Homo sapiens: one gene and its partners. The protein of the gene in region 6 purifies or fractionates together with the protein of the main gene of each other region. This does not show direct contact. Each region holds a gene or a part of one and is shown on either strand. Other genes may lie near its edges. The genes, in order: ARCN1, PPIH, TRMT2B, RAP1B, JPH1, SCYL3 and DDX54.

Region 1 (3,500 bases), on a different chromosome or scaffold from region 6:
CGGGTGGATATGCCTTTATTTTTTATTTTTTATTTTTTTGAGACAGAGTCTCACTCTGTTGCCCAGGCTGGAGTGCAGTGGCACCATCTCGGCTCACTGCAAGCTCCGCCTCCTGAGTTCACGTCATTCTCCCACCTCAGCCTCCTGAGTAGGCGCCCGTCACCACACCCGGCTAATTTTGTTTTTGTATTTTTAGTAGAGGTGGGGTTTCACCATGTTAGCCAGGATGGTCTCGATCTTCTGACCTCGTGATCTACCCGCCTTGGCCTCCCAAAGTGCTGGGATTACAGGCGTGAGCCACCACGCCCGTGAATATGCCTTTATTTGAGCAGCCCCCTATTGGCAGACATGTTTCTAAACTTTTGCCATTACAAACAATTCTTCAGTGAATAACTTAGCAGATTGTTTTGCACAGGTGAGAATTTATCTGTAGGATAGAGTCTGTTGAAGAATTGCTGTATCAAAGGGTATCGCCTTTTAAATGTTGATAGCTATAGCAGTAGCACCTTTAAAAAAACGTTGTTGATGGCTAATCATTAGACCTTGGAGAAAGGGAGTTCTGATTTCTACCTTTCTTTTTTCTTTTCTTTTCTTTTTTATTTTTTGAGACAGAGTTTCACTCTTGTTGCCCAGGCTGGAGTGCAGTGGGACAATCTCGGCTCACCACAGCCTCTGCCTCGTGGTTCAAGCGATTCTCCTGCCTTAGCCTCCCAAGTAGCTGGGACTACAGGCATGCACCACCACGCCTGGCTAATTTTGTATTTTTAGTAGAGACGGGGTTTCTCCATGTTGGTCAGGCTGGTCTCGAACTCCCCACCTCAGGTGATCTGCCCGCCTTGGCCTCCCAAAGTGCTGGGGTTATAGGCATGAGCCACCACGCCCGGCCATTGGTTTCTACCTTTCTGAACAAATGTATTACTTTCTCTTTATAGTGTACATATGAAGATTGAAGAAAAGATAACATTAACCTGTGGACGAGACGGAGGATTACAGAATATGGAGTTGCATGGCATGATCATGCTTAGGATCTCAGATGACAAGTATGGCCGAATTCGTCTTCATGTGGAAAATGAAGATAAGAAAGGGGTGCAGCTACAGGTGTGTAGAAGCTTTTGATAGGGAGTATTAACACTTTGTCTACCTATTATAGTCTTTCTCAACTAGAGTTCCCAATATGAACCACAGAAAATTACTTAAGTTATATAACTAGCATCACTCTAAACGCTTAGGAAAGAAGTTAATATATTGCATACAGTAGCTACCTGAGAGTGAGTAAAGCAGCTGTGTAAGGATGGCTTTTAAATATTGGAATTGAATAAAAGGTCATTTCGAAATCTAATAAATGACTTCATACTCACCAATAAAAGGTACAAGGAGGTGTTTGTCTTTTGCTGTTATGAAAACAGTAAATTAATCACTTAGGATCTTGCTTGAAATACAGTTTTAAAAAAACAAGGCTTTAGGCCAAGTGTGGTGGCTCATGCCTATAATACCAGCACTCTGAGAGGCTGAGGCTGAAGGATCGCTTGAGCCCAGGAGTTCAAGAACAGCCTGAGCAATGAGGGCTGAGCAACAAGACCCTATCTCTACAAAAACTTAAAAAATTAGCCAGGCGTGGTGGCACAATGCGAAATTTACTCATTCTGCTATTAAATAAACTGCCAGTGCTTGTTTTGTTAACTGAAGGGCAGTATCTAATGGTGTATTTGAAAAGTACATAAAATCCTTTCAATATAAGTGTGTGTGTTCCAACTATTGGATAGATATATATAAGCCCTGCTTTATGTTACAGGTGTTCTTGTAATTTCATTTCATTTAGCCGACATCTCGTCACAAGAACAAAGCCTTTTTACGGAAGAGTGTTTTTGTCTACTTTCCCCACCGTAGTCAGCACAGAATTGTCTTTTGGAAGCAGTGCTTATATTATTTGACATTTTTGCTGGCTTGTAAAGTGCTATCCAAAAGTGATTTCTGTTTTGTTTTGTTTTGTTTTGTTTTCCTGAGATGGAGTCTCTCTCTGTTGCCCAAGCTGGAGTTCTGTGGTACGATCTTGGTTCACTGCAACTTCTGCCTCCCCAGTTGAAGCAGTTCTCCTGCCTCAGCCTGCTGAGTAGCTGGGATTACAGGCACCTGCCACCATGCCCAGCTAATTTTTTTTATTTTTAGTAAAGATGGGGTTTCACCATGTTGGCCAAGCTGGTCTCGAACTCTTGACCTCATGATTCGCCCACCTCATCATCCCAAAGTGTTGGGATTGTAGTCATGAGCCACCATGCCCAGCCCTTCTGGGTTTTTTTTGTTTTTGTCTTGTTTTTTTGTTCTTTTTTTTGTTTTTTTTTTTGTTTTTGCACAGTCTCTCTCTGTCATGCGGGCTGGAGTGCAGCAGCACAACCTTGGCTCGCTGCAGCCTTAACCTCCTAGGCTCAAGCAATGCTTCCTCTTCAGCCTCCATAGTAGCTGGAACTATAGGTGTGCACCACCACACCCAGCTATTTATTTATTTATTTATTTATTTATTTTTTATTTTTTGAGACGGAGTTTCACTCTTCCTGCCCAGGTTGGAGTGCAATGGTGTGATCTCGGCTCACCGCAACCTCTGCCTCCCGGGTTCAAGCCATTCTCCTGCCTCAGCCTCTCGAGTAGGTGGGATTACAGGCGTGCGCCACCATGTCCAGCCCCAGCTAACTTTTGTATTTTTAATAGAGATAGGGTTTTGCCATGTTGGCCAGGCTGATGTCAAACTCCTGACCTTCAATGCCCCTCTCACCTCAGCCTCCCCAAAAGCAATTTCTTTTAAAAAGATAAGACTATCTTAATTGGCTTGGATTTTAACAACTTTAAGTCTCTAGGCAAAATTGCAACTAGACTTTACACAGAGCTTGCCCTTTTCTGCTACTTTATATAAGGCCAGAACTGCTGTCTGACCCAGGCAGCTGATCAGGGTCTTACTGGAGCCTTCTGCTTGGCAAACCTGGCCCCACCATGAACCTGCTCCCTGTGAAGTATTTTTGGAAAGAACTTGGTTAATAGTCTTTTAACTTTTTCAGGTGCAAACTTGTTCTGTAATGGCTTTTAGAGTTGAAATTAGCTTTTTTTTTAAAAAATTACTAGTTTTTAAGTATCTTAAATCATTTTAAAATAAGTCTTTGAAGAAGGGAAATCTTTCTTCAAAATGAAAAAGAATTGGAATTTGTTAGGTACTCTATTTTGGATGTTTAGATTGTGGGCCATATAAGCCTAGTGAGGGGTTGTTTCTCGTCTATCTGAACCTCAGGAGTTTTCCTTTCCCTCTCATTCTAGACCCATCCAAATGTGGATAAAAAACTTTTCACTGCAGAGTCTCTAATTGGCCTGAAGAATCCAGAGAAGTCATTTCCAGTCAACAGTGACGTAGGGGTGCTAAAGTGGAGACTACAAACCACAGAGGAATCTTTTATTCCACTGACAAGTAAGTGCCTCTGGCCAGTCCCACTAAGCTAGTTTGCATTGAGAACTAGAAA
Region 2 (3,500 bases), about 130 Mb from region 6:
GACAGAGCAAGACTCCGTCTCGAAAAAAAAAAAAAAAGAAAGAAAGAAATACTGCCCAATAGGGCTTAAAAATACCACTTCCCTTCCCTCCACACCCCTGCTCCATGGGAAATTCATCTCCTCTTTCATTAATTTTTCTTAAATCACATTATTCAGAAACCCAAAATGGGGTGCCCATCTGTAGAACCCCTTTACATTAGACTGCCACCCAGATTTCCTAACACCTTAAAACCTATGAGGGATTTTTGGTAAAGTGAAATGCGATAATTCAAGTAAAGTTCTTAGCTCATTATCCGGGCACAGGAAGAATTCATTGAAGGATAACTGCTTTAATTATAGTGCCCTTAAGTATTAGCTACGAGATTCAGTTCTAAGCAAGCCAGGGCGAGTAGATTGAGAAGCTTACATTTAAAAGAGTTCACTGTCCAGTACAGTAGCCACTAGCTACAACTGGCTCTTTACATTTATTATTTTTTTATTTACTTATTTATTTTTGAGACAGGGTCTCGCTCTGTCGCCCAGGCTAGAGTGCAATGGCACAATCTTGGCTCACTGAAACCTCTGCCTCTCGGGTTCAAGAGATTCTCGTGCCTTTGTCTCTGGAGTAGCTGGGATTACAGGCGTGTGTCATCACGCCCGGCTAATTTTTGTAATTTTAGTAGAGATGGGTTTTACCATGTCGGCAAGGCTGGTCTCAAACTCCTGGCCTCAAGCGATCCACCTGCTTCGGCCTCCCAAAGTGCTGGGATTACAGGTGTGAGCCACCACATCCAGCCTAATTTAAATTTAATAAACTACAGCTTAGTTCTGTCAATAAAAAAAAAATAGGCTGGGAATGTTTGCTCACGCCTATAATCCCAGCACTTTGGGAGGCCAAGATGAGCAGATTACCTGAGCTTAGGAGTTCAAGACCAGCATGGCTAACACGATGAAACCCCGTCTCTACTAAAAATACAAAAAATAGCCAGGCATGGCAGCGTGCGCCTGTAATCCCAGCTACTCAGGAGGCTGAGGCAGGAGAATTGCTTGAACCCGGGAGGTAGAGGTTGCAGTGAGCCAAGACGGCGCCACTGTGCTCCAGCCTGGGCGACAGAGCGAGACTCCATCTCAAAAAAATAAAAAATAAATAAAAAATAAAAAGTTAACAGTTTAGTCCCTCAGTTGCACCAGCCACATTTTAAGTGTTCCGTTGTCACATGGGGCTGGTAGCAACCATACTGGACCTCCCAGATCTAGAATCTTTCCATCATCACAGCCTATGGACAGTCCTGGTCTAGCGGGCCTGTGGAATGTACAATGGCCACCTGAGGAATGCGTTCTGCTTGGGTTGCAGGCTGAGAAGAAGGGCTTTCTTGGAAGCAAAAGTTCATATAACTTTTGCTAACAGTGGGGGAGAGCGGGGAGGGTTGATGATCCCCACCCTCAGAAATAAAACCTCAACAAGGACTTCCAGTAACTTTATGTAAAAGACTCAAAAAGATACAGAAAAGAGGCCCCAACATTAAGAATTTCTAAACTTTATTCTTTTTGTTATCGTTTGTCCTCTGGTAGTGATCAGTGGTCAGTCTTTGAAAAGAAAGGACCTATGAACTCAACTTTAGTTACAGCAAAGAAATGAGTAGGAGACGGAGGGAATGGCCAGCAGCCATTGAAGAGGGAGAGCAGGCTGGGCCCAAGGGGGACCCAGTATTGGCAGAAAGGAAAGCTCAGGGTGTCAAGTGGGCCTGAGAAGGGATCATCTGGCTGAACAAGAGAGGTCCACATGTAGCTCTCAGCACACACTTGTGCATTCCAGCCTCAGCATTTGCTCACACGAGTTCCCCGCCTAAAATGCCTGACATTCTCCCTCTCTACTTAACTCATGTAATAAATTTTTACTGAATGCCTGTAAGTGCCAGCTTTCTGAACAGAGTTGGTCACAGATAAAGGTGTGTTGTAGAGTCATTAAAATGGTCAGGTATTTGACTGGATCTCCATTTGGAAAAAAAGACAAGAAAAAGTCCTATCTTAACACTATACAGAAAAATTAATTATAGATGATTTTATAAATGTACAAATAAGACTTTAAAAATACTAGAAAAATGATCTTAGCTCCACCATATAAAAAGAAATACTAGAAAAAACACAGAAAACATTGTGATCTGAGGTAGTAAAGACCTTAAATGAGACAAAACTGAAAAGCAGTGAAAGACTGATAATTTGGACTTCATCAAAATTTAGAACTTCTCTTTAACAAAGAATATCACCAAACTTAAGCAACACAATACTAATTTTTTTCTTAAAATATATTCTGAAGAAAACAATTACAACATATAAAATTAAGAACTAATGCTCAGTTGGGGGCAGTGGCTCACGCCTGTAATCCTAGCACTTTAGGAGGCCAAGGTGGGCAGACCACTTGAGGTGGGGACCAGCCTGGCCAACATGATGAAACCCCATCTCTACCAAGAAATATAAAAATTAGCTGGGCGTGGTGGCATGCACCTGTAGTCCTAGCTACTTATAGCTATTGTATAAGGTAATCTTATACAATATTTTTAATACGTTTGTGCATGAAACAGATTTTTGACTATGATCCATCACATGAAGTCAGGTGTGGAATTTTCCACTTCTAATGTCATGTTAGTGCTCAAAAAGCTTCATATTTTGGAGCATTTGGGATTTCGGATTAGGGATGCTCAGCCTGCACTGCAGTTTCGGTTTTTCTTTTCCTTTTTTTTTTTTTTTTGATGTCATCCAGGCTGGAGTACAGTGGTGTGATTATAGCTCACTGCAGCCTCAAACTCCTGGGCTCAAGTAATCCTCCCACCTCAGCCTCCTGAGTAGCTGGGACTACAGGCATGCACCACCACACCTGGCTAATTTTTTTTTTTTTTGGAAAGACGGGATCTCACCAGGTTGCCCAGGCTGGTCTCGAACTCCTGAGCTCAAGCTATCTGCCCTCCTTGGCCTCCCAAAGTGCTGGGATTACAGGAGTGAGCCACCTCCTGCCGGGCTGTTTTCATTTTTTAATACAAGGTGGTTTTACATGAACTAAGAAGGAAAAGTTTTCAAGACATATTTTTTAGAACATGAAAAATATAGTATGATTTCATTTGGGAAAAAGAAAACCTCCCAAAATTAGATGGGCAAGGCAAAGGCCCTGATGGACATACATCAAACTAATAAGGAAGTGACCTTTGGAAAGGGGAGTGGAATTGCAGGTGGGTATTGTCAAGAGGGGCTTTCACTTTATCTGTTTGGTGTGAAAGTTTTCACAATGAGAGTGTATTATGTTACTTGTGTAAACCAAATGAAATGAAATATGGGAACCTTGATTGGATCACCTTTTTTTAAGCTACAAAAGTTACTTTTGGGACAATTGGGGAGGTTTGAAAATGTACTATATATTAGATAATATTGTGGTTACGTAGGATGTTCTTATTTTTAGGAGTTCCTTGCTGAAATACTTAGGGGTAAAGTGTCAAGAAGTCTGCAACTTTCAAATGGGAAAGAGAAGA
Region 3 (4,066 bases), on a different chromosome or scaffold from region 6:
AGCGAGATCCGGTCTCTACAAAAAGTTTTAAAAATTAGCCAGGTGTGGTGGCACACACCTGTAGTCCTAGCTACTTAGGAGGCTGAGACAGAAGGATCACAAGTCCAGCAGTTGAAGGCTGCAGTGAGCTATGATTGTGCCATTGCATTCCAGCCCGGGAGGGAGACCCTGTCTCCAAAAAAAAAAAAAAAAAAAAAAAAAGCCAGGCGGGGTGGCTCAGGCCTGTAATCTCAGCACTTTGGGAGGCCAAGGAGGGTGGATCACTTGAGGTTAGGAGTTCGAGACCAGCCTGGCCAACACGGTGAAACCCTGTCTACCAAAAATATACAAAATTAGCTGGGTGTGGTGGCGCACGCCTATAATCCCAGCTACTCAGCAGGCTGAGGCAGGAGAATTGCTTGAACCCGGGCAGAGGTTAAAGTGAACCGAGATCATACCACTGCACTCCAGCCTGGGCAAGAGACTCCTTCTCAAAAAAAAAAAAAAAAGTGTGTGGCCTGTGAGAATGTACGTATTCGATATGGAGGATGGCAAAAGCCAGAGAAAGGAAATGAATGAAGAGGCAAGAGACATAAAGAATGACATGGTGGGTCTGAGAAGGCCAGTGGCCTTGAAGCCCAGACTACAGGGGAAGGGAGTAGAGCTGATCCAGGAGAGGGGTCCTGTCCCTCCAGTCAGCAGGAAAGTCAGGAGGAAGGAAACTGCAGGCCCATTTGAGGATTTGCAGAGGAGGGACAAGGAAGCTGGGGAATTTGAAGATAGCTATTCCCACCCCAACGACATTTAGACTTTTTTGTGAGTGTGTGGGTCCTCTCACTGGTGACTCTGCCATGACTGTAGTTCATTTGCCCTATACCCCAGCAGGAGGGTCCTTGTCCATCTAGGTCTCTTCCAAATTATCAAGTATGGTTTAAAACAGGACCTTATTATTTCAAGGTGCCAACCAGCCATCATTCTAGGTAAAGAGCCTGTCATATTTAGTAACTTCTGTGGTGAAATTTCTTTTTCAAGGCAGCACACTCATACTAGTCAAGGTGAGTTCTGTTTCTTTCTTAATGTCAGGGGAGACATTTGTTCACAGAAGAGACTATTTTCTTTTTATATTTTGTCCTGTTTTAAATAAGTGCTTGGGGCCAGGTGCGGTGGCTCACGCCTGCAATCCCAGCACTTTGGGAGGCCGAGGCTGACAGGTCACCTGAGCTCAGGAGTTTGAGACCAACCTGACCAACATGGAGAAACCCTGTCTATACTAAAAGTACAAAATTAGCCGGGTGTGGTGGCGCACGCCTGTAATCCCAGCTACTCGGGAGGCTGAGGCAGGAGAATCGCTTGAACCTGGGAGGCAGAGGTTGCGGTGAGGCGAGATCACACCATTGCACTCCAGCCTGGGCAACAAGAGTGAAACTCTGTCTCAAAAATAAAAATAAAAAATAAAAAATAAATGCTTGGGGGCCAGGCTCGGTGGCTCTCGCTTGTAATCCCAGCACTTTGGGAGGCCGAGGCAGCCGGATCACAAGGTCAGGAGTTCGAGAGCAGCCTGACCAACAGAGTGAAACCCAGTCTCTACTAAAAATACAAAAATTAGCTGGGCGTGGTGGCAGGCGCCTGTAATCCTAGCTACTCCAGAGGCTGAGGCAGGAGAATCACTTGAACCCGGGAGGCGGAGGTTGCAGTGAGCCGAGATCGCACCACTGCACTCCAGCCTGGGTGACAAAGCTAGACTCCGTCTCAAACAAATAAAAAATAAAAATGCTTGGGAGTTTTTTCCTCAGCAAAAAAAAAAAAAAGCGTGTGAGCAGTCGTGCTCGACTGTTCTATACCTGCCTCAGGAATTGATCAGGAAGAGTCCTGGAGTCCAGAGTAGCCCAAATAGGAAGGCAGGCTAACTCTCCTGTGCTCAGAGAGGTTCAAATCAAAGAGACTATGTGGTAGGTCTCACCTGCGCAGGGCCAAGGATCCCTTTTGGAGCAAAATGTTCACCCACCGACAAGGGTCCTGCTTGCACTCTCTGCTCACCCTTCCTTCAGCTGGACCGGCTCCAGACACTATTCCTTGCTAAACCAAACAAGCAAATGGGTTGACTGCTGTGTCGTGTCCCGAATGCAGCCCACAGGCAGTCAGGTCCTTGTCTCCCCAACAAGACTCCACTAGCCCTTCCATTCCCTTCTTCTTTAGGCAAGTTCTGCCCACTGTGTCTGTAGGAAGGGTTAACAAAGAGGAGACACTAGGAAAGGCTACCACTAAACTTGGCCGGTCTGCAGGGCCCGGGAAGGACAGAAAGTAAGGGAGTGGGAGGAGTTAGGGCACAGGCCCACGCTGGGCCGTACACGACCTTGCGCAGTCACCGTCGGGTCCCGTCTCCAGCCCCGCCTGCCTCCTCCATTCCCCGCCCCGCGGACAGTTTGGCATAGTAGGGAGTTTTCTGTAAAGCAAGGGTTAAATCAGGTTTTCCGGGCTATTTATCCACCTTACCTTCCTTCGTAACCAATAAATCCTCTTACAAACCTGAGGCGGCAAACTAAAAGGCCAGCGGATGGCCTGGTTTGCTGCGGCGGGGAAACAGTCACTTCCTGGTGCGCAAGGCGCCTCTACTCCCGCCGCACGCGCAGCCAACCCTTGGCAAGCGCGGCGGGACACGGGGCTCCTCCCAGCGTCGGCGAGGCAGCAGGCTCCGGCACCTCGACTCCTCTCGGGGAGTACCCCTCCCTACTTTGCTGGGGGAACCTTCTATGGAGACCTTCCTTAAAAGCACTCATAGCCCTGACACCCGCCGCCTTCCTTCTCTAAGTTCTCCTCTCCTCCCCTCCCCGGGGCCCCGCCCACCACCTGCTCTTTCCTCACCGTCCCATTGGTGGATCTACATAAGAGACTCACGAAGACGTTCACACTGCAGTGTTAACTGCGTTAGCCATCCCAGGGGTGCTTGCAGTTTAAGTCTTCCAACTCAAGGAATAGTTTTCTCATGATAGAATTGCAGACATCAGATCCCTAACGGGTTGGAAGATTGGGAGATGAGAAACAGGGTGGTTCCGTGAAATGGCATCCTTTGGTAAAAGCCAGATCTATTCTGGGCCGTGGGGTTTCTCAAGCATTCATTCTCTTTTAACACTGCATCAGAAAAATACTTTATAGTTTCTTCACTGGATCCCACTCAAGACTATTAAATCCTAAACCCTCAGAAATAATCTTTTTCTTCAACTACAGAACTCAAAAAGAGGACAGATGTCTCTTTTTGGTTGATTCACTACCTCCTGGACTACATTCAGTAATACCTCTAATTTTTAGAGGAGTCATTAGCCCAGCCACGAGTAAGAAAACTTGAAGTATACACACATCTGTGTGCTGTAAAATATTGTTGCTTTAATAGAGTAAAATTTACAGCAAAGTGAACCTACCGAGGTGGGTGCAGTGGCTCACGCCTGTAATCCCAGCAGTTTGGGAGGCCGAGGCGGAAGGATCACCTGAGGTCAGGGGTTCGAGACCAGCCTGACCAACATGGTGAAACCCCATCTCTACTAAAAATACAAAAATTAGCTAGGCGTGGTGGCGCACGCCTGTAATCCCAGCTGCTCAGGAGGCTGAGGCAGGAGAGTCACTCGAACCCAGGTGGTGGAGGTTGCAGTGAGCTGAGATCATGCCATTGCATTCCAGCCTGGGCAAAAAGAGTGAAACTCCGTTTCAAAAAAAAAAAATAGTGAACGTACATTTAATGATATTTAATTTTTATGCTTAATAGTAATTGTGCTCAAGTGGAAAACACTTTGTAGTCAACATTTCATGTATTAATATTTATTCAAAGCATAACATGCCTATTATGTGCAAGGCAATGTGTTAGCCTTAGTGAGTACAGTAGTAAATTAAACAAGGCCCAATACTTCAAATAGCAGCAAACATTGAGTCAGTCAGAATAGGATTCAAAGCCCAGATCTGCCACTTATTTTCTATTTTTCTGTTTTTTGAGACAGAGTTTTGCTCTTGTTGCCCAGGCTAGAGTGCAATGGTGTGATCTCGGCTCACCGCAACCTCCGCCTCCCAGGTTCAAGCGATTCTCCTGCCTCAGCCTCCC
Region 4 (3,500 bases), on a different chromosome or scaffold from region 6:
ATCAGTTTGCACATTCTAATCACTTTCCAGTATCACAAGAGAGATTTTTACTTATATAATAGTCCTAGAGTTTGCAGCTGGTAAAACCAGAGGCTACATCCAGTATTACTGCTAAGAGACATTCTTCATCCACCAATGTTGTACATGTATGAAAATGGTGTACTGTATACTTTAACATGCCCCATACTTTGTATTGGAGAGTACAATAATGTAAATCCTAAAAGCACCACTATTTTAGCATAATAAAAGAAAGTCCAAAGAGCTCCTATATAGACTACTCCAGATAACTTCGCTTCTTTGATACTTGTAGCTTATTGTAATTTTTTTTAAGAAATTCAAGGTCATTATTATTGTACAAAATAAGCGCTTTGATTAACACAGCTATATAGTTTTTTTAATTTTTAAAAAACCTGTGGAGACGGTGATCTTGTCTTTAAAACATGATAGTCCTTTCAGTATAATGTCTTAGATTAAAGACGTTGCCTTTAATATCTGTTGGGAAGGAAATGTCCAGACTTTTCAAATCTCTTATTATATGTTTCCTTTTTTTGTTTACATAGGGAACAATGTTTATAGTCGTGTGTACAGTGGGGGTCTACAACAAGAAGTGTATATTTTCAAACAATTTTTTAATGATTTAACAATTTTTGTAAATCATTTTCAGGCTTCTGCAGCTGTAGATTCTCACTGTGAATCCCTTGCTTGCTCATGCATAAGTGTATTTGCAATACCAAATATACAGGTTTAGTATTTTTGCCTGTTAGTGATTGTTTCACATGTGTAACGTTTTGGTTGAGATGTTAAATGGTGGACGAGTACTGTGGATGTGAATGTGGGAAGTAATTTTAATCATATGTAATTGGTCACAAGGCCTAATTTGCAGTAACTATTGCTGTTTTATTTAACAATGCCTTGTTGCTTTGTATGCATTAATGTTTGGATGTAAAGATTGTGTGTCTATCCAACAGGGAGCCACAGTATTTAAATTGACCAACCTAATGTTACAACTACTTTGAGGTGGCCAAATGTAAACTAAAAGCCTTAATTAAAGTGGTGCAATTTTGTATAACTTAGCATCAGTAGTTCAATAAATTTGGATTGCCATGCAAGGGCTTGCATTATAATTACTTGCCACTTGAATGTGTTTTGTGTAATGTTTTAACAGTGCTAGTAAATAAATACGGGTTTACCCTGGTTTTAATTGTAATAGGTGCATTTTACACAGCATGGTTTCATAATTTAACATCTGGGCAAGCCAGACTCATTAATTACAGGAATAAGGAAGTAGCGAGTTTTCTGGTATTGTTTGAATATCCACATAACCACCTTTTGAACTTTTCCTTGAGAAATAATTTTGTAAATCAAGCAGTATTACTTACGAATAAATGCCTTTGGGTAATGTTCAGTAGCTATTTGATGAGGTAGGTAAAAGAGGAACGATTTAACATACTTTCATGGATGTTACACTATGGATTTTTTAAAATACAGGATTGAAGTTAGAATATTGTGGTTATAAAAATCTTTGAGTGATGTGGATTAAGCACTTAGAGAATCGATATTTTTCTTAAATATGCTATAATTGAATTCTGTAAGAACTGAATTCTTATAGAATTATTTTAAAACTTTTTAAAAATTGTAAAGCTCTTAAAAAACTTTTTGAAAGTATTTGCCAGCTACTGGAGCAATTAATCAGTGATAATATCTAATAGAGGGGTATCTGCTAATCCCCTAAATACACGCTGTTTGAATGATACATTTTTAAAGGCTTTCATGTTAAGAAAAAGTCTGATTCTTTACAAAAGGGACTTGTTTTGGCAGAACTGGTTTTATTTATAATCATTTGGGAAAAAAATTAAGCCCAAAAAACTGGGACTGTGAAACACTAAAATTACTTCAATTTACTATGTCCTGTTACATCCATTGATACCGCCATTATTCAATAATTACTTTTAATAAATGTTTGCTGCCTACCAGCTATGTACCAGGCCCAGTTCTAGGCTCAAACAGCTAAATATTCATTCATTGGACAAATTAAGTACTTAAGTATAAAAATTGTTCTAGGCCTAAGGATGTAGCAGCAACCAAGATCAACTATAAAATGCTGCCCTCCTAGAATTTATATTCTATTGAAGAGTTTCTCAGCCTCAGCACTATTGATGTTTTATGTTTGATAATGTATTCTGGCGACTCTCCTGTGCATTATAGGAATTTTAATATCTGCCCACTAGATGCCAGTCACACCACCCCAGCCCCCAAGTTGTGGCAACCAAAAATGTTTCCAGACATTGCCAGATGTTCCCCAGTTGGATTGTTGGGGGACAAGGGAGGTGAACTTGGAGGGCAAAATCACCCTGGTGAAGAACTACTGCTCTGGTGGGAAACAACACATTAGTTACAGATGAGTGTTAGGGTTACAAGATGGATGGTTTACTATATAGTGAATAAGAATATAAAGTTTGGAGCCAGACTTCCTGGGTTTTTAATCCCAGCTCTTCCAGTTCCTACTATATGCCTTTGGTTGGGTGCCTTGGTTTCCTCATCTGTAAAATGAGAATGATAATACCTACTTCATAGGAGAGTGAAATGAATGCCAGTGCTATCCTCTAGGTCTATATATATATATATATATATATATTATATATAGTACATATATAGAGAGAGTATATATATATATGTAGTACAGTGGAGGTCTATATAATACTATATATATAATTTATTTTTTTCAATGCTGATAGGAATAAGGCTGTGGTTTGGCAAAAAGCACCATTTTCTCCTATACAAAATAGTAACTGCAGTTTGGGAGCACAACTCATGTAGATTGACTTTTCTGGTGCTTAATGGGAAAATACTAAAATAATTGAGTCAGAAAAGGCATGAATTCCTTTTCACGTCCCCAAGGATACTTGAAGAAACTTGAGTTTTAGGAGAAAATCAGAGTGGTCTTTCACTTACATTTTTCTAAAAAGTGTAAAAACCCTGTATTGACTTTCTTGTTGATTCAGTTGTTTCTTAAACGTAAATAGCTCATCTTTACCATATGTGGGCATTACAAATAGAAATTTTTAAAATTCCATTTATAAAATGAAGTTTTGCCGTTTTTTTTTTTAAATCATTCCGTCTTTAGTTGTGGGACAGCAAACTTAGAATCGAAACTCATCACTACAACTTTTCTTTGAGTTAAACTCTTATCTGTGTTTTCATTGAATTTAATCTCCATCTATTCTATCTCTTCTTAAATCTTGGAAATGTAAAAGGGAGTTATAGTGTTTTACAATTAATACTCTTACTATTACCTTAGAAGCCTTAAAAGTGCTTGCAGGCTTGTCTCATAATCTGTCAGTGAGCCTTAACATTGTGATTTGTAAGACTAAAATTTTTTTTTCAAACAAAACAAATCTGACAGCCTGGGCAACATAGACCCCATCTCTACAAAAAAAAATTTTTTTTTAATTAGCTGGGCATGGTGGTGCACGTCTGTACCTGTAGTCCCAGCTATTCAG
Region 5 (3,500 bases), on a different chromosome or scaffold from region 6:
TGATAAATGAAATGCTTTTGGGGCACGTATTCCCCTTTGGTGTATGCATTTTTTGCCTGTGACCAGCAATAGCATCAGGGCATCCAGTTTGAGTGGTTTCAGCTTATCTCTCCAGACTGCCTAACCTGAATCCCACCCCCCAACGCAAGAACAATCGCAATTGACTGATTACAGGGGTCGTGTGTCACTCTGGAACTGAGCCTGGGATGTGATCACATGAATTCACTAACATGAGCCAGAGACAAGTCCAGATTATTCCTGGGCAAAATCTAGACATGCCAGTGGCCTTAGCTGTACAGGCTGGTGTTAACAGCAAACTCAGAGTGGGTTTCTGTTCTTCCTTCTTGTCATCGGTTCCAAAAGCTCTTGAGCAGACTTCAGGATTCAGGTTTGAATGTGGTCTTGACTCATCTGGCCAGCTATACAGTAGCACTGAGCCACAGAGCTGGGCTGGATAGAAAGGTCCTCCTTTGCTGTGTGGTCTTATAGGAAACAGCAAGTAAAAAAGTAAAGGGTTAAGTACTAGCAGGCTTCACTGATGCTGTGCTTCCAAAATATATTTGCAGAAAGGTTAAGCTGTATTTGTCTATTCTCTAGTTTAGCATATTATAAAAAGTGGTAGATATACTACTGCTGTTTTATTTGACTGTATGGTGGTGTGTCGTGATTGAATCCGAATAAGTTACTTGTACTTGAGTTTTGTAAATTTATCATTAAAGGGCTAATAGATAGTATTATAAAGCAGCATAGCTATACTCTTATGGCTTCATTAATTATGACACCTAGACATAATTAGGCTCTGGCTAAGAATAGCGGACAAAATGGAAAATCATTTGGGGGAAAAAAGTTTAGATTCTGAGAAACTGAAAGAACATTAGCGGAGGGCATCTGTTGATTATCAGGCACAACACACAGGACTAAGGCATTACCCATCGTACCTCAGCAATGGCACCCATGAGGGGTTATTCCAACAGCCAGTTGTTTAAGAATATGTCCCTCCCCTCTTGATGTTATTTCCATTTCATATTTCTTGATACCCCATACACAAATAATCTAAAGCATCCTCCATGGTTTAGAAATAGCAGTTTTGATGATTCGAAGTTGATCCACTCATTTTTAATGACTTTATTTTTTAGAGCAGTTTTAAGTTATCAGAAAAATTGAACAGGAACTGCAAAGTTCCCATACACCTCCTCTCCTCATGCACACACACAATATCCCCTATTATTAACATCTTGCATTTTGAGGTGCGTTTGGTGTAATTGATGAACCGGTATTAATATATTAGTATTAAAGTCCATAGTTTACATCAGGCTTCATTCACTGTTTGTGTTGTACAGTCTATAGATTTTGACAAATATGTAATGTCCCCCACTACAGTATCATGCAGAATAATTAAACTCCCCCAGATATGCCCTCCTTTCCACCAATTCATTCTTCCCTACTACACCCCGAACTCTTAGCAACTCTGAATCTTTTTACTGTCTCTATGGTTTTGTCATTCCATTCAGTTTTAAGAACTACCCAGCTTTTCCTAAGGAAGCATCATTCATTCCTTTATTCATAAAGTGGTCCCTCAATAAATAGTATGTGCCAATGTAGCGTTCTGCACTTTGGGATTATGACAGAGGACCAAAAATTAAAAATTCCAATCTTCACAAAGCTTACATTCTAATACATCAAGCCTTCAGGCTTGCTTAGATCCTAAATAGAAGTGAAAGGAGTCCCGTGAGAGCACAGGACAAGAGGAGGTTATTGAAGAGAGTAATGTGAAAAGGGGGCCTCCTACCAGTAGACCCCCTTGTCTCAGGCCAGGCCCGGTGCCTCCGTGTTTTGGTCCCAGGAGCTCCGCCTGCCAGCCTCCTCCAGCTGCTGCCCGTGTGTTCTCCCTGAAGAGCATCCAAAGCCCATGCCTTTTCCCAACTCCTCCTCTCTCCTGCTGTCTCCAACATAAGTGTAAGCACCTTTTTCAGACTTCCATTAAGTTTTCACTGCTAGTTATTTATAGCCCTGCCTAGTGCTAATAAAATATAATAGAAAATTTACAAAGTCATAAGAAATAGGTACCCATAAACATCTAAAGACTAACGGGACAAGGCCTTTCCCTTTGCAGAGCAGATAAACCAGAGTTTTTTTCTTCCCTCCAACCCTCTCTGGGGCCAGTAGACATCATTCCCTGGTGCAGCCATAAGAAGCCCTATTCTTTTTCCTGCCACTTTCCGCATAACCCTAGTCCTCCAGAAAGATGAGAGGTTTCCATGAGTGAGGACAGGCCAGGGAGGCGATGGAAGACTGAAAGATCCATTTCATCCTTGCCAGTTCTGCCTCGCTGTCTCCTTTTTGGTTCATACAAGAAACATGCCTAAAAGTCAGCTAAATGGGCTCCTCAGGAACCCTTCTGAGCATGTTCTTAGAGCGGGCCTTGTGGTTTGCTCCTGCTGGTGAGCACCAATAGTGCACATCTCCCCACTGCACATCCAACGGCATTATGCTGGTAGCCTGAAATTGGCCACGGTGAGAACATTTACACATGGATATGAATAAACACTACCAATCCCCATTTCACTAATTTTTTTCTTCAAAGAGCTACTTCACCAGCATGCCAGTGGGCAGATCTTTCTTAGTCAAATTCTTACATTGATTGTACCGTAGAAATGAATTTGATAAACACTATTAATTTATATGTTCTAATTCTACTTTCCATAATTTTAGGTGGGGGGGAGGAATGCCAACCAAAGTCAACAGGAGATTTGATCCAGTAAGTTTTGAAAACCACACTTAGCATCAAGCTACACAGACCTTGCTCTTACTTTTCATTTCCCTTGAGAGAAGGGCTAAGGCAATTCATGGGTAGTTTAGTTTCATCTATGTCATCTTCATTGAAATTTCACGGCAATAGGACTCTAAAATTTTTGCTCTTGTGGGTGTCGGGCCATAATCATAATTAACATTTCTTTTCCCAGATTACAATTTGCTTGTCCCTGTGTAAGTAACAAGGGGTCACCTATGCTGACTCGTCCTTTTGTGCCCCGTGTAGGACTGCACATGCCAGAGCGAAGGCCGATGCCGCCGACCAGGCCGCGCTGGCCGCTCGCCAGGAGTGCGACATCGCGAGAGCTGTGGCCAGGGAGCTGTCACCTGATTTCTACCAACCAGGTAAAACAGTGCTCCTTTGATGGGTGAGGCAGGAGCACTGGCTTTGGCTTGCTTTTATTTCCTTTTCCTTTCAACATAAAGATGTGTGCTTCCTGAATCCCAGCAGTACTATTATACAAAACAAGCAAGGGCGCCTGCGGTTGAGGATCCTTCATCTGAAGTGCTTGGGACCAGAAGTGTTTCAGATTTCAGATTTGTTGATATTTTTCTGTATTTGCATGTACACAGTGAGATCTCTTGAGCTGGGAACCCAAGTTGAAACACGAAATTCATTTATGTTTCATAGATACCTTATACACATAGCCTGGAGGTAATTTTATAGTATATTTTTAATAATTTTGCAC
Region 6 (3,500 bases):
ATATGTGTAGTTTTGGGTTCAGTGTATGAATTATGCTTAATACTTTTCACTGAAATGAAAATTTGTTTTTTCATCTGTAACCTTTGATTTTTCGGGTAGATCATGCGCAGGGAGAAACTCCTTGCTTGCTCTCACCAGCCCTGTTCCAGTCACGGGTGATCCCCGTGCTTCTCCAGTTGTTTGAAGTTCATGAAGAGCATGTGCGGATGGTGCTGCTGTCTCACATCGAGGCCTACGTGGAGCACTTCACTCAGGAGCAGCTGAAGAAAGTCATCTTGCCACAGGTCAGAGGCCAAGTTTGCAGTGGGGTAGTCACAGAACCTGAGGGAAGAGTGCTGAAAGAAAGAGTTTTGGAGGTATTCAGATAATAGCTTAGAAAGCCTTCAGGCAGCAGTCTGTGGAATACAAAGTGCTGAAATTAAAATTGCATTTCCATTCCATTCACACAGGCAAATTGATTAAACTGACATATTTGGTCTTAACCTGGGAGAAACTATAATTGTTTGTTAATTTTGGGAGGGTAAATGAATAACAATAATGTATGGAGCACTTTGTGAACATAACATATAATTATCCATAATTATTATAAAGTAATTAAATTAGAACAGAGAGGAGCATGAGATGATTCTTATCAGTGGCTTTCAGCCTGTTGTTATCAGCCACTAGGGAACCTTATTATGATTTGCCCACCAAAGGGTTTTGTTAGTGAAACTAATGAAAGGTTTGTATTAGTTGCTTAGGCTGCCATAACAAATTATCACAAATTATAATGGCTTAAAGCAATACAAATTTATTTTTAGTTCTGGAGGCCAGAAGTCTAAAACCAGGGTGTCAACAGGACCCTGCTTCCTCTGAAGGCTGTAGGATGTGAAAGGGACTCCTCTTTACAAGCTTCTCGTAGCTCCCAGCAATCCTTGGTATTTCTTGGCTTGTGGCTGTATCATTCCAGTCTCTGCTTCTGTTGTCACGTGGCCTTCTTACCTCCTTGTCTGTCTTTACATGGCCTCTTAGAAAGACACCAGTCATTGAATTTATGGCCTACCCTAACCCAGTATGACCTCATCTAAAGGTCACATTCTGCATGGACATGAATTTTGGAGGGACACTATTCAACCTAGTATGAGGTTTTAAAAAAATTGTTTTAAAAGACTACAATCACATGGTGTCTTTCAAATAATTTTCCTATGAGATAGATTAACATTCTCTCTGCTTTCAAGGAGCTCATAAGTGGGACATGTTTCAGTCATCCGTTGCCATGTAAGTACCCCAAAACTTAGTGCCTTAAAATAATAATCATTTTATTAATTCTCATGATTCTTTGGATTGACTGGACTCAGCTGAAGGTTCTGTTCCACATATCAGCTGAGTCTTCAGTCATCTGGGGCCCGACAAGGGTTGACACATCCAAAATGGCTCCTTGGTATCTTGGAAGGGGTGGCTGAGAGGCTGCGCCTTTCTCTCCATGAATTTTCAGGAAGCTTGGGGGGCTTGTATCCCCCCATGTGACATTTCCACATGATTTCTCTAGCAAGGCAGGTGGACTTCTTAAATGGCTGGCCAGGGCTAAAGAAAAAAAAAGGGCAAAAGAAGCCTTCTTAAAGTGTAGGTTGTGAACTGACAGTCATTTTTGCCTCATTCTCTCGGTTAGAGTTGGAAAAAGCCCAGGCTCATTGTGGGATGGGTTTACTCAAGGGCATGGATACTGGAGGTGTGATTCGCTGGGGGCTGACTTTAAAGTCTCTGTGTTGTAGTAACTACAACATAGCACTTTGTATTTACATCTGCAGCAGTAATTGTTACCCTGTATGTAGTTGTGTCTGGAAATTTAGAAGAGGAATGAAGCACTTTAACTCTGAAATGGAGTTGTCATCATAGGTCTCAGAATTGGACTGAGGTCAAAGAGTAAATGTTGAGCATGTGGAAGACAATGAAACCTCTCATTACTTAGGAAACTGCTTCCCCTAAAGAAGAGTGGGCCAATTTGTGTGTGCTAGAAAGTTCACTTTGGTAGCAGTGTGGAAGAGACCACAGAAAGGGAGATAAGCTAGGAAGCTGTTAGAATAGTTTAGCTAAGAGATGACAAAGGCTGGGGAAAGTGTGACAGTGGATATAGTAGAGGGACACAGAAGGGGTAGTACTCAGTTTCTCATTAGATGGAAGAGGTGTTGAGGATGACCAATTTTTGGCTTGGGCGGATTGCTGTTTTATGATTATCATATTCAGTGGGCAGAACTCTAATCATATGTAAAAGAAACATGCTTTAGTTTACATGTACAGAAAGTGATCTGTTAGCATTGGTCCTAATAATTATCTTTTGAGTCCTGTTGGAAACCTTTAATCTTACTATATAAATGAGGAAACCAGGCCAGAAAAATAAAAAGACCAATTGGTCAAGTCACATTGAGAATTATTAGCAGAGCTAAGACCAAAACCAAAGATTCCTGATACCTGTCACGCCCTGCTGCTTCCAGTAGGCAGGCCAGTTACCCTGGCCTTGTGTCTGGCTGGTGCAGATGCTTTGAAGGTCATTTCCTTCCTTATATGCAGAGCAGTACTTGCCTGATATCTGCATGTGACTGTCTTCTAAGGTGTTTTTGGTTGCAAGTAACTGAAACTCATTTTAAACCAGCCAAAGCAAAAAAAATTTAAGAATGTTAGACTAACTTAGATGGAAATCAAGTGCAGCTGGGGCTTACAGCCATGTTTTTCATTCCTTTCTTCTGTCTGCATTTGTTTGACTTTTGACTCTCTGAAGACCAGCTTTCCTTGTTTTGGTGTGCACATGGCCAAAATGGTTGTCCCATAACTTCCAAGTTTTCTGTCCTCATAAAAAAAAATTATTTTAGAGATGGGGGTCTCACTGTGTTGCCCAAGCTAGAGTGCAGTGGCTCTTCACAGGCATGAACCCACTACCGATCAGCCCAGGAGTTTGACCTGCTCCATTTCCAACCTGGGCTGGTTCACCCCTCTTTAGGCAACCTGGTAGTCCCCAGCTCCTGGGAGGTTACTATATTGATGCTGAATTTAGTGCAGACACCCAATCAGCATAGCACACTACAGCCCAGAACTCCTGGGCTCAAGTGATCCACATGCCTCAGCCTTCTGAGTAGCTCGGGCTACAGGCACTTGTCCCTGCCTGGCATACTGTCCTCATTGAGTAAACCTATATAAACTGAAAATATAAATTCTAGTTTATATTACTGGACAAAAGATCATGATGGGCTCAGTTTGGGACAGGTGGTCCTACCCTTGAAAAGAGCTGAAAAGAGAAGCATGGACAGGAACATAACTGTTAGTACCCTAGATGAGTTCTGAGTGCGCTCTGCAGAACACTGCCAGTACATGAACTTTTTATTACAGTTCTGTGATGTGAGTACAGATATGAAGACTTAACATTTAAAACCTTTTGTCGCAATTTGACAGAGTAATTTTATGTACCCAACATATGTCTTTTTAATTTTGTTTTGATTGTATTTTTTAAAAATGGTAAGTCTGTGATG
Region 7 (3,500 bases), on a different chromosome or scaffold from region 6:
CGCAGCTGAAGCTGCTCGGCCCCGCCCCCAGCACACAGGTCCCACTTATTGGAGATGCTGTTGCTGAAGCTGCTCGGCCCCGCCCCCAGCACCAGGTCCCACTTATTGGAGATGCCGCTGCTGAAGCTGCTGGGCCCGCCCCCAGCACAGGCCCCACTTACTGGAGATGCTGCTGCTGAAGCTGCTGGGCCCCGCCCCCAGCACAGGTCCCACTAGTTCGAGATGCTGCTGCTGAAGCTGCTCGGCCCCGCCCCCAGCACCAGGTCCCATCTATTGGAGATGCGGCTGCTTAAGCCGCTCAGCCCCGCCCCCTCCTCCCCGCCCCCGCCCCCGCCCCCAGGTTCCACTTAATTGAAGCTGCTCCTGCTGAAGCTCCTCGGCCCCGCCCCTCCCCAGCCACGCCCCTCAGGATACAGGTCTCGCTTGTAGGAGCTGCTGATGTAGCGGCCGCTCTCTGTCTTAATCTTCTTCTTGTCTTCCTGTCCTGACTGTCCCACAAACCGCTTCTTCTTACGGTCCCTGCAGGAGAGGGAGTTGGGACGGCTGCCGTGGAGGGAAACCCTTGGAGTGCCGGCTGCCGCTTGGGGCCTGTCTCCTCACCCGACCCTCTTGTCAGGTTGTTGGAGCATTAAAGGAAAGCAGTGCAGCCATGTCTGGCATGCAGTTGGCGCTCAATAAAGGCTTCTTCCCTATCCCTCCTCACCTCTCCCTGCAGTCCAGGTCTCAAAAGGGAGTGCGGAGGTCAGAGGACTGCCGCCAGCACTGGGGCCTGGCTCAGGGACAAGGGCCTCCTGGAGGGTTTCCAATCCCCTCCCCCTACCCAGCTGTGACCCTGGGTTGAGTCACATACACTCTCCAGACGCTAGAGTCCTGAACGAATGGGTCCTGAGCCCTGTCTAGAAAGACTTGCCAGCAAAAAGAATAGACGGGGTCAAGATCTCTGTGGTGTGTGATCAAATCAAGGGGACAGCACAGCCAGGGGCCATCACACCTGCTGTGAGTGGTCACATGGGGGACAGCCAGGCCATAATCTGGGCTGTGCAGGATCAGATGGGAGTGAGGACTTCAGGGAGCTCACCCTGCCTGCTGGCATGGAGGGCAGCTCACTCGATCACTCACCCTGGGCCTGGAGGGGTGGCTCACTCGCTCACTCACCCCAGGGAATGGAGGGGCGGCTCACTCGCTCACTCACTTCAGGGAATGGAGGTAGGGGAGGCTCACTCGCTCACTCACCCCAGGCATGGAGGGGCAGCTCACTCTCTCACTCACCCTGGGCCTGGAGGGGCAGCTCACTCGATCACTCACCCCGGGCATGGAGGGGCGGCTCACTCACTCACTCACCCCGGGCATGGAGGGAGGGGCGGCTCACTCGATCACTCACCCCAGGCACGGAGGAGCAGCTCACTCGGTCACTCACCCCGAGCATGGAGGGGCGGCTCACTCGATCACTCACCACTTGAGCTGCTGCCGGCCCCTCGTCAGGTTCTGGGCTTCATCCCCCATCAAGTCCAGGACAGCGCCAGCTGCCTGCTGCTCAAAGGCTCCCCCTTCCCCGCTGATGCTCAGGCTGCAGAGGGAGAGTGGGAGACATAATTGGATTGATGGGACCCAGCGGACCCAACTGCCCCACCCAGGACCCAGCCAGCCACTCACCCCCGCTCGCTGTCAAAGTCCTTGGGCCGGTAGGGGATGTAGAATTCCTGGTCCCGCTGCCGGGCCTCCTCCCTCCGCCTCTTGGCTCCCCTGTTGGGTCCTGACCGCTGCCGCTTCCGGCCCACGACCTCTGAGAAAATGTCCTGGCAGAGCACAGACCAAGGCCCAGTGTCATGCCTGCTGCCCCCTGGGGACTTCCCCCTGCCTCCCTACCCACCAGCCTGGCCACAGTGAGGGGCCAGTGGCTTCTCGGGGACTTTCAAAGCTTCATTTTGCCATTTCTTAGCTGGGTGACAGTGTCTCCTGTGGGACCCTCAGTTTCCTCATCTGCACACACAGTGCAACCCCTGCCTCAGGGACCAGCAGAGGCAGGACAGCTGGGTGAGGAGGAGAGTGCCGGCCGAGGGAGACCCAACTCCCCATTCCAGCTCCGCACCCCAGGCTATGTGACAGCCGGCCCTGCCCCTCTCTGCGCCTGGCCTGCTCTGAACAACATGGACTAGGCCAGGGGTCTCCAACTGGTCTTCTTGGCTACTGAACCCTCTGTCCAAACAAAACATGAGAGAGGGACATCCTGGGGGACGCACAGGCCCAGGACCCACCCACCAGGTGAATGGGACACTTCATGGTCCTCCCTCTGAGTGGAGACCTACACGTCTCACTGCAGAAGCCCTGATGTGTTTGGTGGCTGGTGATGCCCCGGACCCCACTGAGGGTGTCATGTCGTGCACAGCTCCTCAGGCTAAAGATCTGGCCCCAGAGTTTTAAACGAGGGATGGTGGACAAGAACCATGCCCCGACTCTGCAGATGGGAAGCTGACTGCATCCACCTCCATCCACTGCTCAAAGATCCTAGGACAGCCTCATGGGCTGCTGGGACTTAGCCACCCCTTCCCCATACCCCAGGTCCAGGGTCCCCAGGGTGGAACCTGTACCTCCACACTCTCTCCCGCCTCCTCCTCCTCCTCCTTCTCAGGCTGCTTCTCCTGCAGTGCTGGGCGGCTCGGGGCTGGGCCCACTGGGCCCTCCTGCTGCTCCTGCCGCCCCTGCTGTCCCTGCTGGAAGCGGGCGATGGCCTTGCGGTCCTTCTGCCGCTTGGCGCGCATCACCTGGCTGCACAGGTCTCGGCTGGAGGCGTTGATCTCAAAGATAGTCTGTGGAGGGGACACCCAGTCCTTTGCCCACTGGCCTCCTACTCCTAACCCCACCCTTACCACTTGGTGGGCTTCCTATGGGCGTTCTTCCCCAAGTCTTCCCCAGTGTCCATTATCTGCACTTCACAATTAGATAGACAGACCCAGACCAGGCGCAGTGGCTCATGCCTGTAATCCCAGCACTTGAGGAGGCTGAGGCGGGTGGATCACTTGAGGTCAGGAGTTCGAGACTAGCCTGGCCAACACGGCGAAACCCCATCTCTGCTAAAAATACAAAAATTAGCTAGGTGTGGTGGTGGGCACCTGTAGTCCCAGCTACTTAGGAGGCTGAGGCAGGAGAATCACTTGAACCCAGAAGGCAGAGGTTGCAGTGAGCCGAGATTGCACCACTGCACCCCAGCCTGGGTAACAGAGCGAGACTCCATCTCAAAAACAAAACCAAACAAAAACACAGAGAGACCCAGGCCAGGCACCGTGGCTCACGCCTGTAATCTCAGCACTTTGGGAGGCTGAGGCAAGAGGATCACCTGAGCCCAGGGGTCTGAGAGCAGCCTAGGCAACATGACCTCATCTCTACAAAAAATAAAAAAAAATAGCTGGGTGTGGTGGCATGCACCTGTAGTCCCAGCTACTCAGGAGGCTGAGATAGGAGGATCGTTTGAGCCCAGGAGGTCAAGGCTGCAGTGAGCCATG

What was found.
Region 1: the proteins of SCYL3 (region 6) and ARCN1 purify together in Homo sapiens (affinity purification with mass spectrometry; one large-scale study listed by BioGRID and IntAct). This does not show direct contact.
Region 2: the proteins of SCYL3 (region 6) and PPIH purify together in Homo sapiens (affinity purification with mass spectrometry; one large-scale study listed by BioGRID and IntAct). This does not show direct contact.
Region 3: the proteins of SCYL3 (region 6) and TRMT2B purify together in Homo sapiens (affinity purification with mass spectrometry; one large-scale study listed by BioGRID and IntAct). This does not show direct contact.
Region 4: the proteins of SCYL3 (region 6) and RAP1B purify together in Homo sapiens (affinity purification with mass spectrometry; one large-scale study listed by BioGRID and IntAct). This does not show direct contact.
Region 5: the proteins of SCYL3 (region 6) and JPH1 purify together in Homo sapiens (affinity purification with mass spectrometry; one large-scale study listed by BioGRID and IntAct). This does not show direct contact.
Region 7: the proteins of SCYL3 (region 6) and DDX54 purify together in Homo sapiens (affinity purification with mass spectrometry; one large-scale study listed by BioGRID and IntAct). This does not show direct contact.

Annotation. Positions count from the first base shown.
Region 1 is NC_000011.10:118,589,409-118,592,908, forward strand, and holds part of ARCN1 (coatomer subunit delta), read left to right. Parts: intron 1-932; coding exon 933-1,098; intron 1,099-3,300; coding exon 3,301-3,448; intron 3,449-3,500. UniProt on the Homo sapiens protein: Component of the coatomer, a cytosolic protein complex that binds to dilysine motifs and reversibly associates with Golgi non-clathrin-coated vesicles, which further mediate biosynthetic protein transport from the ER, via the Golgi up to the trans Golgi network.
Region 2 is NC_000001.11:42,668,423-42,671,922, reverse strand, and holds part of PPIH (peptidyl-prolyl cis-trans isomerase H), read right to left. Parts: intron 1-3,500. UniProt on the Homo sapiens protein: PPIase that catalyzes the cis-trans isomerization of proline imidic peptide bonds in oligopeptides and may therefore assist protein folding. Participates in pre-mRNA splicing.
Region 3 is NC_000023.11:101,049,312-101,053,377, forward strand, and holds the start of TRMT2B (tRNA (uracil-5-)-methyltransferase homolog B), read right to left. Parts: upstream 2,801-4,066; 5' UTR 2,506-2,800; exon of another isoform or gene 2,473-2,505; intron 2,426-2,472; exon of another isoform or gene 2,423-2,425; 5' UTR 1,940-2,422; intron 1-1,939. UniProt on the Homo sapiens protein: Mitochondrial S-adenosyl-L-methionine-dependent methyltransferase that catalyzes the formation of 5-methyl-uridine in tRNAs and 12S rRNA. Catalyzes the methylation of uridine at position 54 (m5U54) in all tRNAs.
Region 4 is NC_000012.12:68,659,399-68,662,898, forward strand, and holds part of RAP1B (ras-related protein Rap-1b isoform 1 precursor), read left to right. Parts: 3' UTR 1-3,500. UniProt on the Homo sapiens protein: GTP-binding protein that possesses intrinsic GTPase activity. Contributes to the polarizing activity of KRIT1 and CDH5 in the establishment and maintenance of correct endothelial cell polarity and vascular lumen.
Region 5 is NC_000008.11:74,259,041-74,262,540, reverse strand, and holds part of JPH1 (junctophilin-1), read left to right. Parts: intron 1-3,037; coding exon 3,038-3,156; intron 3,157-3,500. UniProt on the Homo sapiens protein: Junctophilins contribute to the formation of junctional membrane complexes (JMCs) which link the plasma membrane with the endoplasmic or sarcoplasmic reticulum in excitable cells.
Region 6 is NC_000001.11:169,859,397-169,862,896, reverse strand, and holds part of SCYL3 (protein-associating with the carboxyl-terminal domain of ezrin), read left to right. Parts: intron 1-99; coding exon 100-284; intron 285-3,500. UniProt on the Homo sapiens protein: May play a role in regulating cell adhesion/migration complexes in migrating cells.
Region 7 is NC_000012.12:113,161,479-113,164,978, forward strand, and holds part of DDX54 (ATP-dependent RNA helicase DDX54), read right to left. Parts: intron 2,808-3,500; coding exon 2,589-2,807; intron 1,797-2,588; coding exon 1,654-1,796; intron 1,568-1,653; coding exon 1,454-1,567; intron 520-1,453; coding exon 415-519; intron 1-414.